2 separate regions of the Homo sapiens genome follow, and region 2 is linked to region 1. The links come from fine-mapping of genetic effects on gene expression. A gene starts in region 1. The other region holds a variant in brackets. All regions are shown on one strand. Distances are between the middles of the regions.

Region 1 (5,217 bases):
CTGGCCTGGGGCCACACTCTCCACAGGATGTCAAGAACACTTTCCTCACCACCCCCAGCCCCCGCACCTGGGAGGAAGAAGAGAGGGGCTGGGCCAGGCGCCGCTGGCATGCAGGGCCACCAGCAGTGAGTCCTGGGCCACAACTGGACACAGACCACCCTCCTCCCCCGGGGCCCTGCCCAGAGAGGGGACGCAGACACGCATTCCGCAGTGAGGACGCGGTGGAGACATTGAGGAACGTGGTCCCACTGCAGGGCACCCTGCAGTCCCACACCGAGGCAGACGGCCCGACGTCCACTGGCCATGCCAGGCGCTGTGGCTGAGCAGCCCTTTGATAAAAGGGTTTCCCTTTCATTCGCTAAACCTTGTCATAACAGAAAGACGTGCTCACGATTGAGAAAAACGCAAGGAGGAGAAAGGTGCCAGTGGAAAAGGTGCACATCGGGGCCCTTCCCAGAAGGAAATCACCACTGGTAACAAAAAGAACCCTGCCTGTCTTACAAGGAAGCAGACGGGACCCTTCCTCTCTCCCTCACACCAGGAGCGCAGGGTCTGTGCTGTCTGCTCCTCCAGGGCTGGGGCCTGCTCCCTCCACGCCGGGCCCATCCACAAGGGAGGTGGTCTCCAGCGCTGAGCGGGAAGGCAGCTGGGTGAAGGCAAAGGGGGCAGCATCTAGGGAGGCTTATGAGGGGCCAGGGGAAGAGGCATCAGGGCCTCTGAGCGGAGAGGAGGTGCCAGGCTGGCCTGGTCAGGGTGGGGAGGTGGGCGTGAGAACTCCGCTCTGTCCCATCCCCTCATCTGACCGACCTCTGGGCAACCCCACAGGGTGTCAGTTTCAACCCTGGGCTGCTGGAGTGACCAACACAGAAAGCAGGTGTCCAAAGCAATGGGTCCCAGGCCAGTGAGTCAGTGGGTGCTAGGGACACCTGGCCTCAAGGCTTGGAATGAACATCCACCCAGAGGGGGCATGGCACCTTCTACTACCCCACATCACCTCCCACGCCAGCCCCAGAAGGCTGCAGATCTCAACTGCGCAGGATACGGGATAACCCAGCAGACGCTCGGGAGCCACCATGTTCACCTACAGACTCACAGATTGTCCCACCTGGGGGACCCATTGCAAACTCCTGTCACTCCACTCAGGCACTCACCGGCCGGGGGAGCACACCCTCTTGAGGCTGGCAGGCCCTGCCTCCTGGGACTGTCTGATGCAGAAAGAAAATCCCTCCAACAGGGACAAAGACTTCTCCCCCGACACTCCTCTTTGGGGGCTGCTGTCCCGGGTGCCTTCCTGGGATGCGGCCTCTCTGGAGGGTCTGCACCGGCTCCAGCCCAGCACCATCCACCAAGCATCACCTGCCCCACCACGGCCCCGACCCAGCCACAGCTGACTAAAGCCTGTCATCCGCCCCAGCCTGGCAGGGCCTCTCACTCTGCCCAGACCCCATCCCTTCCTATACCAGGTCCCCTGCAGCCCCGGAGGACAAAGACGCCCTCCCAGGCTCTGTCGGTGCCCCCACAGCTCCAGGCAGGAGGTCTGGGCACGGAGGGCTGAGTGGAGAAGTGACCAGCGTGCAGTCCAGGCCCTGCAAGGGGAGGCGGAGGCAGGCAGGAAGTGCTTTCCTCCAGGACCACCTGAGGCCCTGCAGAGGGGACGCAGGAGGGATCCCTGCCCCACACCCTCCCTGGGAGTCACAGACACCCGTCCTGGAGGGTGCTCTGGCAGCCCCCTGGCGTACAGCCCCCCATGCACACAGGCCGAGCATCCCACCCAGACCCGGGCCTGGCCGGCTCTGCCGCACCTGTCCTCTGGAGCAGCTGCAGGCCCGGCTCAGCCCTCCCTACAGGCCCAGCGCTGCAGGCGGCCTGGGCTGCCAGACCTGGGGGCTCCATGCTGACCCTCCCCAAGCTGGGGTGCTGGCTCAGGGCGGGGACTGGGGGGGGACCCCTGCCTCCTCCCAGAGGACTGTTCCCCCAGCAATGTGGCAGTCACTCTGCCCTGCCCTACCGCAGCCCAGCCTCTCGTCTGCCTGGGAGGGGTCCAGGGTCAGCGCTAACCCACGCAGCACCCCTGGAGGCTGGGTTCGGGGGCCCTGCTCTGAGCGTTTCCACAAGCACAGCTCAACCCTCAGGTATGTGGGGCTTTGCTTCTGGGGGGCCCCTTGCTGCTCTGCTGGGGGGCTCAGGGCCTGCGTCCCCTCCGCCTACAGGGCCACCAGGCAGCCCCTCGGGCCTCAGTCTGCCCTGCTGGAAAGAGGGTTCTTCCGTCCAGGGCCCCCACCTGCGCTCCCAGGGGCGCCGGGGGGTCCGGGTCCGCACGGGGCTCTCGGGTTTCCCGGCGGGGTGACAGCGGCGGCGATTTTGGGCAAGCTGGCATTACTGCCCCGGGCCTCGGTAACCCGTGTCGCTACCCCCGCGCCCCCCGTCCCCCGCCCGCCCCGCTCACCTGCCACGGGCGACGGCTTCCGCAGCACCAGCCACCTACTCTTCCACTGCGGGGACAGGGGGGAGCGTGAGCCGCCGCCCGCGCCCGCGCCCCCCCCCCCCGCGCCCCCGACGCGCCCCGACCTTCTTGCCGTCCCGCAGCTTGACCTGGCCCTCCACCAGCGCCGCCTCGGTCATCTTCTGTCATGGTTCCGCGCCGCCGCGCTCGCCCCGGCGCCCCAGCCCAGGGTCACTTTCAAAATAGCTCGCAGGGCCCTGGGCTGGGCCAGGAGGGCGGGCCCGCGGGCAGGGCGGCGACACCGGCGACTCCAGGGCCGGCGCGGGCGGGGCTCCTTCTCCTGCGGGCGGCTCCCCCACCCCCACGGGCCCCTCTGGCCCCACCGTCCCGCGGCGGCCACTGGAGCCGCCCGCCCTCTGGAGCAAGCGCACCATCTGGGCTCAGACGCTCAGACCAGCGCCTGGCGGGGCGGGGGTCGGGCGGGGACTTCTTTTTCAAAAAGCAGAGACAACCACCTAGCAGACATCGGCCCCGCTCTGGGCACTGCTCCCAACTTTAAAGTTGGTCTTCAAACAATCCGGCTTCCCAGACTGGCATCTGCCCCTACCCCAGGGGTCACTAGACACCCGGACAACAGACTGGCCACAGGCAGCCCAGGCCTAGGATGCTCTCACATCCCCAGGCTTCCCCCACACTGAGGTGACCCCTCCCCAGGCAGGCAGTAGGGGTCGGGGAGCCCCTGGCAGCCTCTGTCTCTTCCTCCATTTCTGTTCCCATTAAAAGCCTGCAGGGACCCCAGTGCAGGTGGGCGGGTCCAGGACCCACAGTGCCGCCTCAGGGCCCCAGGTCTCCACCTCTTCTGCCCCCATCCCAGGCAAGAGCAGGCCCTGGTTAGGCCAGCCGGCTCCGATGGGCAGAGGAGCTGCCTGCTTTGTAAAGGACCTGCCAGCAGCCCTCCCAGCTGGGTGGACTTTGCGCTTCTGGACTCCCCCTCCTTGACCCTGTGGCTCCAGTCCAGCTGTCCCCAAGCTCTGGCCTGGGCATTAGATGTCACATCCAGGTTCTTCTGCAGAGAGGCCATGTGCTTTGGGGGACCTGGCAGGTCCGTGCCTTGGGTGTCAGCCCCATCCGAGAGACGGCCTCCACCACCCTGGGGTTGGGGACACCCAGCAGATACGGGAACAGCAGTGGGGAGGGGCGATGGCACCCTAGAAGATAAGCACCTGGACAAACAGCAAAGCTCCGTCCACATGCCCTACCCTAGACCCCATCCTCACGGGGCTGACGGTTCTCGGGGGAGAAGAAGGAAGGGGTAGACAGTGTCCCGTTAGGGAGGAGACGTCTTCATTTCATCCCATCCAGACCCTAGGCTGGGCTCTGTCTGCCTCGCACTGAGGAGCAAATGGAATCAGGGCAGCGTGAGGCCTCACAGCCAGGACTGAGCCACATCGGCTGACCTCAGAGCAGGGCTCAGAGGCATCGGGAGCCCTGGGCGCCCCTCCCCACTGCCCCTGTGATCCAAGAGACAGGTCTCCGGTGGGCCACAAGGGTTGGCTTTGGTGCTTCGGTGATGTCTTGTCAGGGCCTCATGCAAGGCGGGGGACACCAGGCCCAGGAAGCAGAATTTTGCATCCCCCACCCACCCCCGCAGTCACCTGTGCAGCCACCAGCCGCCTTCCGCAGAACAGTTGCTGGGTCACAGAGCCCCATTCATGCTCCCCACACATCCCAGGCCCCCAAGGGGCTGGCCCAGGACAGCCGGTGCGGAGGCGGGGGCCGTTGGGGCTGTAGCCACAGACACATCCGCTGCCCTGGGCGCCTGGCACTTGCTTATCCCTACAGGGAGAGGCAGGGCCCTGCTGCATTCCTGAGTGCTGGCCCGGGCCCAGGCTCCTGCCATGCCTGGCAGCTGCACCTGCTCCCACACAGCCTGGAACACACAGGATGCCGGAGGGTAGACAACTCCCTTCCCTGCTCCATGCGGCTCCAGGGCTGCTGAAAGGTGGAGGAAGCTTCCTGCAGGAGGAGGAGGTGGCCTGGCTGCCACTCCCAGACTGGCCGAGAGCGCTGTGACCCTGGGCAAGCTCCTGCCCCGCTCCGTGCCTCAGAAGTTATAGCCAGAAGTTTCCCCAGAAGTTATAGCCAGGGTTGCTGGTTGCAAATGGAGAAATAGGCTGGCCACTGAGTAGGAAGGGGTTGATTGGAAGCAAATCAGGTCTCCAAGAACCAAGGGGAAGGCTGGAGAGCTGGTAGGCAGTGAAAACAGAGCCACATCCTGAAAGAGGAGGACACCACAGCTCAGCCCCACAGCACAGCTGGGCTCCACACGAGGGGCAGGGTCACCACCTTCAAAGGAGCCCACAGTCTCAGGTCACAGCAGCACCCCTGTCTGACCACAGAGCCCTGCTGCGGCTGCCATGCTGCTGCTGGACACTGTGGCCAGGGACACTGCCATCTCTGCCAGACCCCATGGTCGTGGCACATTGCCACCCGCCAGTGGCTCTGTGGCCAAGGGACCTGTCCCTGACTAGCCACACCACCTTCAGCCACCATGTGATCTTACTGGTCTCAGCTTCCTCTTCTACCTTGATACTGTGATGAGCCCCAATGAGATGGCGTCCATGAGCATCTTTCAAAATGATCCAGGGTTTTCCAAGGTGATTCCAAGGGGATGATGGGGACCAGGGGTGGGCTGCTTTGTCTTGCATCTCCAAGTGGCCTGGTGTGTGGGAGAGAAACACGTCAGCTGAGTGTGGCAAGCACTGTACCCTGTG
Region 2 (5,217 bases), 25 kb before region 1:
AATGAATGAGCAGGAGGGAAATGAACGAGCAGGCGGAGAGGGAAGGAATGAACGAGCAGGGAGAGAAGAAATGAAGGAATGAGCAGAGAGAGAAGGAAAAAACGAATGAGCAGGGGGAGAAGGAAGGAACGAATGAGCGGGGGGGTGAAGGAAAGAATGAGCAGGGGGAAAAGGAAGGAATGAATGAGCAGAGGGAGAAGAAAGGAATGAATGAGCAGGAGAGAAATGAAGGAATGAATGAGCGGGGCGGTGGGGGGGGTGAAAGAAGGACTGAATGAGCAGGGGGTGGGGGGAAGGAAGGAATGAATGAGTGTGGGGAAAAGGAAGGAATGAATGGAGGTAAGGCAAGAATGAGCCGGGGGGGCGGAGGAAGAAATGAATGAGCAAGGTGGGGAAGGAAGGAATGAATGAGCAGGGAGAAAAGGAAGGAATGAATGAGGGGGTGAAGACAGGAATGAATGAGGGGGGAAGGAATGAGTGGGGGGGGCGGAGGAAGAAATGAATGAGCAGGGTGGGGAAGGAAGGAATGAATGAGCAGGGAGAAAAGGAATGAATGGGGGTGAAGAAAGGAATGAATGAGGGGGTGAAGAAAGGAATGGGGGGAGGAAGGAATTAATGAGTAGGAGGAAGAAGGAAGGAATGAATGAGCAGGAGGAGAAGGAAGGAATGAGCAGGGTGGTGGGGAAGGAAGGATGAATGAGTAGCGGGCGGGGCGGGGAGTTGGGGGAAGAATGAATGAGCAGGAGACAGAAGGAATGAATGAATGAGCAGAGGGAGCCTGCAGCCCCCACACATGCATGGATGCCTCCTGAGCTCTCCTGCTGGAGGCTTAGCCGAGGTCCCACAGCCCAGGTCAGCCCCCGGCCCTACCTCCACTGCCCGGCCTGCCCGCATGTGAGAGGAGGCTCAGCCGCTTCTCCAGCTGTAGGGTTTCCAGGGCTTCCTGGGCCACACGCTCCTCCACAGTCGAGGGTCCCGGGGGACTTGGGTCTGTGGCAGAGAGAAGACTCGGTGGAGGAGGTGGCCACCACCGCCCACCCTCGCCCGCAGGCACCAGGCCCAGCCTGACTCAGTGGTTATCCCCCTCTGTGGAGTGGCAGTCCCCTGGGAGTCCCCGCTCCTCCCGATGCCTCATCCCAGAGGCTGGCCCTCAAACGCAGACACCCACACCACCCCTATCCAGGCCACCATGCGCCCAGCTGGGTCCCTGTGCCCGTGGATGGCCCTGCCACCTGCCCACTCACCAGGACCCCACGCCGGCCAGACCCCTCCTTCCTCATCTTCCTCACCACCGAGTTTTTCAATTTTCTGTTCCAAAAAATGACCAGCCCCTCCCCCATCCCCAGGGCCGGCCTCGCTGCAAGAGGGGCTGCCTGCCCCTCATTCACGGTGCCCATTTCTCACAGGCTCCCCTCCACCTGGGGAAATGCCCGCCCACCTTGCAGTGTCCCCACCGTTCCCTGGGGTCTCGGATGGAGACTCATACTGTGCCCAAGGCTCAGAGCATGGTGGTCTGCGGACCCTCGGCCCCACCTAGCCCCTCCCCTCAGGGCTGCATCCAGGGAGCACCAGCCTCGCCTTCTCTATTCATCGTCCATGTGTCCTCTGCGACTGAGTGGCAGGAAACCTCCCCTTCCTGCCCAGGCAGGGTGGGACCTCTCACTGGCCCCTCAGCACCGCTGCTGCGAGCCTCAGCATCACTGCCCTGGTCCCCAAGCCCCCGCCCATGCTGGGATGTCCCAGGCACTAAGTGATGTGAACACTGGGCCAAGTGGCTACCTTGCTCCAAACAGCAGGGCTCAAGACCCTGCCCCTTCCACATCCACAGCACCCACGGCCACAGCCATCCCAAAGAGTTTCCCTGGCAGGGAAGCCACAGCCACACCCGCAAGAGCAAACCGACCCCGTCCTGCTCCAAGTGGCCTCCTCTGGGCCTCCAGAACACACCTCCTGACACCCACCTTGGGGGCACCTGCAGGACTGAGCCGAAACAGGTCCAAGGACCTGCTCTCCCCAAAGTCCAGGAGCAGTGGCAGCATGAAAAGTTTACACCAAATTCTGCAGCGCACAGAGGACCAGAAGGTACAGTCCCCAGCCTGGGACACCTAGATCAGAGCCTCAGCGGACAGAACCCAGCCTGGCGGAGGCTGGAGCCAGACGTCCCGACCCCATGGTCAGCGCTCCGGAGAAACAAACAGAGAAAGCAATGGTGTCCCTGTCCAGGTTCACATCTAGGCTGAAGAGGCCCTGTCCCTGATAGGACACTGTCCTCTGCTGATGCCTTCAGCCCACACAGGTGCCCAGCTGGGGCCCTTGCTCACTACAGGAGACCCCATCAGGACCTCAGAACAGGGCCCTCCCCACGGGCAGGTGAGAGCTCACAGCACCGGGCCCAGGAACACAAGAAGGGCCTGGAGGAGCCTCCCCCACCTCTGGGTATGGCCACCCCAAGGCACTGCCCCGGTCAGCCTGGGGCCCTGCCAGCCCAAGACCCTGTGGCCCTGTCTGTAGCATTGCC[G/A]GGGACAGGGATGGGGGTGGCACAAGCCTCTCTCCTGTCCCCTCCCTGCCTGTGCCTGGGAGGGTGGAAGGCGATGGCAGCCAAGGCTGTGCCAGCTCAGGCATCAGTCCCTCCCGACACGGCCTGCTGGTGGCCATGGAGCCCACAGGCCACACGGCTTAGCAGCTCCTGGCACTTTCACAGACACATTCAGCCACGTGGGCAGGACAGCAGGCACCAGTCCTGGCTCCTTGGTGCACTGAGGGTCCAGGCTGAAGACAAGCACAGTGACAGGACAGCACAACTGCCCCTCAGCCCTGGGACATTCCGACCAGGGCCACCCTCAAAGCCAATGCCCCACAGGTGGGACGGAGAGTGGCCCCTCGGTGACACCAGGGTCAGGATGCAGGACACAACCTCCCACCATTTCCCGTCCAGTAACTGGTGGGCCAGCAAGACACGGATCGACTCCCAGCTCCACCACACGCCCCCTGAGCCTCTCACCCTCGTCTGCAAAATGGGGTGCAGCAACGGTGCACCCCCGTGGAGGCCAGGCCAAGAAGGTAACATGCACGCCATACTCGGAGCATGGTGGACCCCAGACCTCTGAGCCCTTCCCTCCTGCTCCTGGTGGGTCTGGCTGCCTCTGGGACTCGGTGTCCACATGCGGAAGACCAAGGGGCTGGACTTCCTGCATCTCTTGGCCCCTCCAGTGGGTCACAGCGGGCTCAGCACAGGAGGACGGCAGAAAGCCCAGAGCTTGAGGATGCCGCCCGCAGGGCTCTATTGTGGGAGTCCTGTGATCACGGGGCTCCAGTGTGCTGCCAGCACAGGCAGACGAACCCATCAGCCCAGACCCTCCAGTAAGTCCAGCCTGCGGGGGCTGGGCCCACGGCTTCTCTGGTGGGGTGCTGCCCAGCATAGTGTCCCAGCTCAACCCACCTCCGGGTGGCCTGAGGCCCCCACACACCTGCAGAGGCACAGCTTGGGGGCACAGCTGCAGGCCGAGGCCCTGACAACAGAGCTTTCTGAGAGCTCCCAGCTGACTCTGACAAAGATGTCCTGTGGAGTGGGGTCTGGGACTTCTGGTCAGCCCAACCCCCTCCAGCTGTCAGCAATGGCCCCGCCTGGGGCTGGCCCACGTGCTGCCTGCGGTGGAGCCTGTCCCATCTAGTGGCTGTCCCAGGCAAACCCTCCCTGGCATCCTCTGCCCAGTACTGCTTCCCTGCTTCCCTCTGCTCCCCGGGAACTGCCTGAGGGGAGCAGGAGAGAGCAGGGAGCCCTGCTCAGCCTCCTGCTGCCCCTGCCCGGCCCTGTCCCCGCCCTGCACTCTGCACACCCTCGCCTTGCACAGCCAAACACACCGACCACATCATCCACGCTGACCACACCATCCACACCTGCCTGCAGCCGCTAGGCAGGAAGACACCTGCAGGGGTGCATCCACTAGGCAGGAAGACACCTGCAGGGGTGCATCCACTAGGCAGGAAGACACCTACAGGGGTGCAGCTGCACCATCCAGCATGGCAGGGCAGCGGGGAGGGCGCTGGCCATAGGTGCCACCTCCCCACTCCCAGGGCTGCCCCCAACGGGACTTTGCTGGTGTGGGCAGGGGGCATTGGGGGCTGTGGCCAGGAGAAGGGAGGCCCAGGTCCCACCCCACATGCTGCTCGCCTCTGCCCTCCCAGTCACCCTTCCCCGCCACACCACGGCGGGGGTGCCAGTGCCAGGAGGCGCCACATGTGAGCTTGCTGCTCACCCGCCACATGGCCTAGGCCTTGGCCTCACTTGGACGTTGGGTCAAGCGCTGCCCTCGTGGAGCAAGAGGAGCATTTGAGAGAGCCCATGGAGGCACCTGGCCCAGCACCCGCCCCGACCTGGGGAGCCCCACCGTGCCCAGGCACCAGAGCCCCTCTGGGGTCCAGCAACATCCCTGGCCAAGGACTCCTGCAGAGAGTGCCGCAGCCACAGCCAAGGAAGTGTGGGTGAGACAAGACGAGACCCCCTCAGCCCAACGTGTCCTGAGACCCCACAGCCAGGGGACCTCCCGAGGTGGCCTTGGGCCTAAACACCGGGCTCAGGCAGAGCCAGTCCCGACCCCAGCTGCAGAGTCAGACCAGCTGCCCCCGGGCCACCGAGCTCGGGCAAGGCCTTCCCTGCTCCTGGGCGTGGAAGATGGTGGTGGTGGGTCAGAGGGTCTCTTACTGCACAGTGGCAGCTGTGGCTGACTGTCCCAGCCAGAAAGCTCTAGGGCCAAGCGTTCCAACAGCTCGGACCCCCGAGGGAGAGCACCTGCAGGTACGAGCCCAGCCCCCGCTGCTCTGAATCCCTCAGCAGGGCTTGCAGAAGCCCAGGCTGCAATCCTGGCCTGGAAAGGTTCTGGTTCCTTAGCTGGGGGTGGGGAGGCTGGCCATCTAACTGGGGCTGACAAATCACTGTGGCCCCCCGCCCCGGGACGTCGCACAGCCTGCCGAGCGCACCCTCCCCGGCCGGCCAGGCTCCCACACGCACCTGGTAGAACCGGCCGCAGCCCAAAGGGGCCCTTGGTGGGGGAGATGCCTCGGACGATGCAGTCGAACAGGAAGCTGATCTGCTCCCCCTCGGCCGAGGACAGGAAGAAGACGCCAGCCCCTGCAGAGGAAGGACAGAGACAGGTCAGTCTGGCCCGAGGGCGGGCTGGGGACCCTGAAGAGGAGGAACACAGGAAACCGCAGCAAACT

Direction of the effects. Positions count from the first base shown, and alleles are read on the strand shown. Sizes are in standard deviations (SD) of each study's normalised expression.
With allele G in place of A in region 2, the expression in whole blood of the gene that starts at base 2,692 in region 1 is lower (small effect, 0.20 SD a copy in GTEx).

Evidence for each region. PIP is the estimated chance that this variant, and not a neighbour inherited with it, causes the effect.
Region 2: its variant is fine-mapped to the expression of DOK7 in whole blood (TOPMed, PIP above 0.99). The same link has a PIP of 0.9 or more in blood mononuclear cells.

The regions. Positions count from the first base shown.
Region 1 is chr4:3,460,781-3,465,997 of GRCh38, reverse strand. It overlaps DOK7 (docking protein 7), which reads right to left and starts at 2,692. Exons shown (of 7, transcript NM_173660.5): 1 at 2,569-2,692; 2 at 2,447-2,492. The coding sequence starts at 2,622. RefSeq lists enhancers at 1-149, 3,067-3,914.
Region 2 is chr4:3,485,450-3,490,666 of GRCh38, reverse strand. It overlaps DOK7 (docking protein 7), which reads right to left. Exons shown (of 7, transcript NM_173660.5): 5 at 5,009-5,128; 6 at 871-990. Among named protein-coding and RNA genes, the nearest start is that of DOK7, 25 kb to the right of the region's middle. RefSeq lists a silencer at 846-955 and enhancers at 4,112-5,078, 5,080-5,217. The variant G/A (reference allele first, on the strand shown) is at 2,519.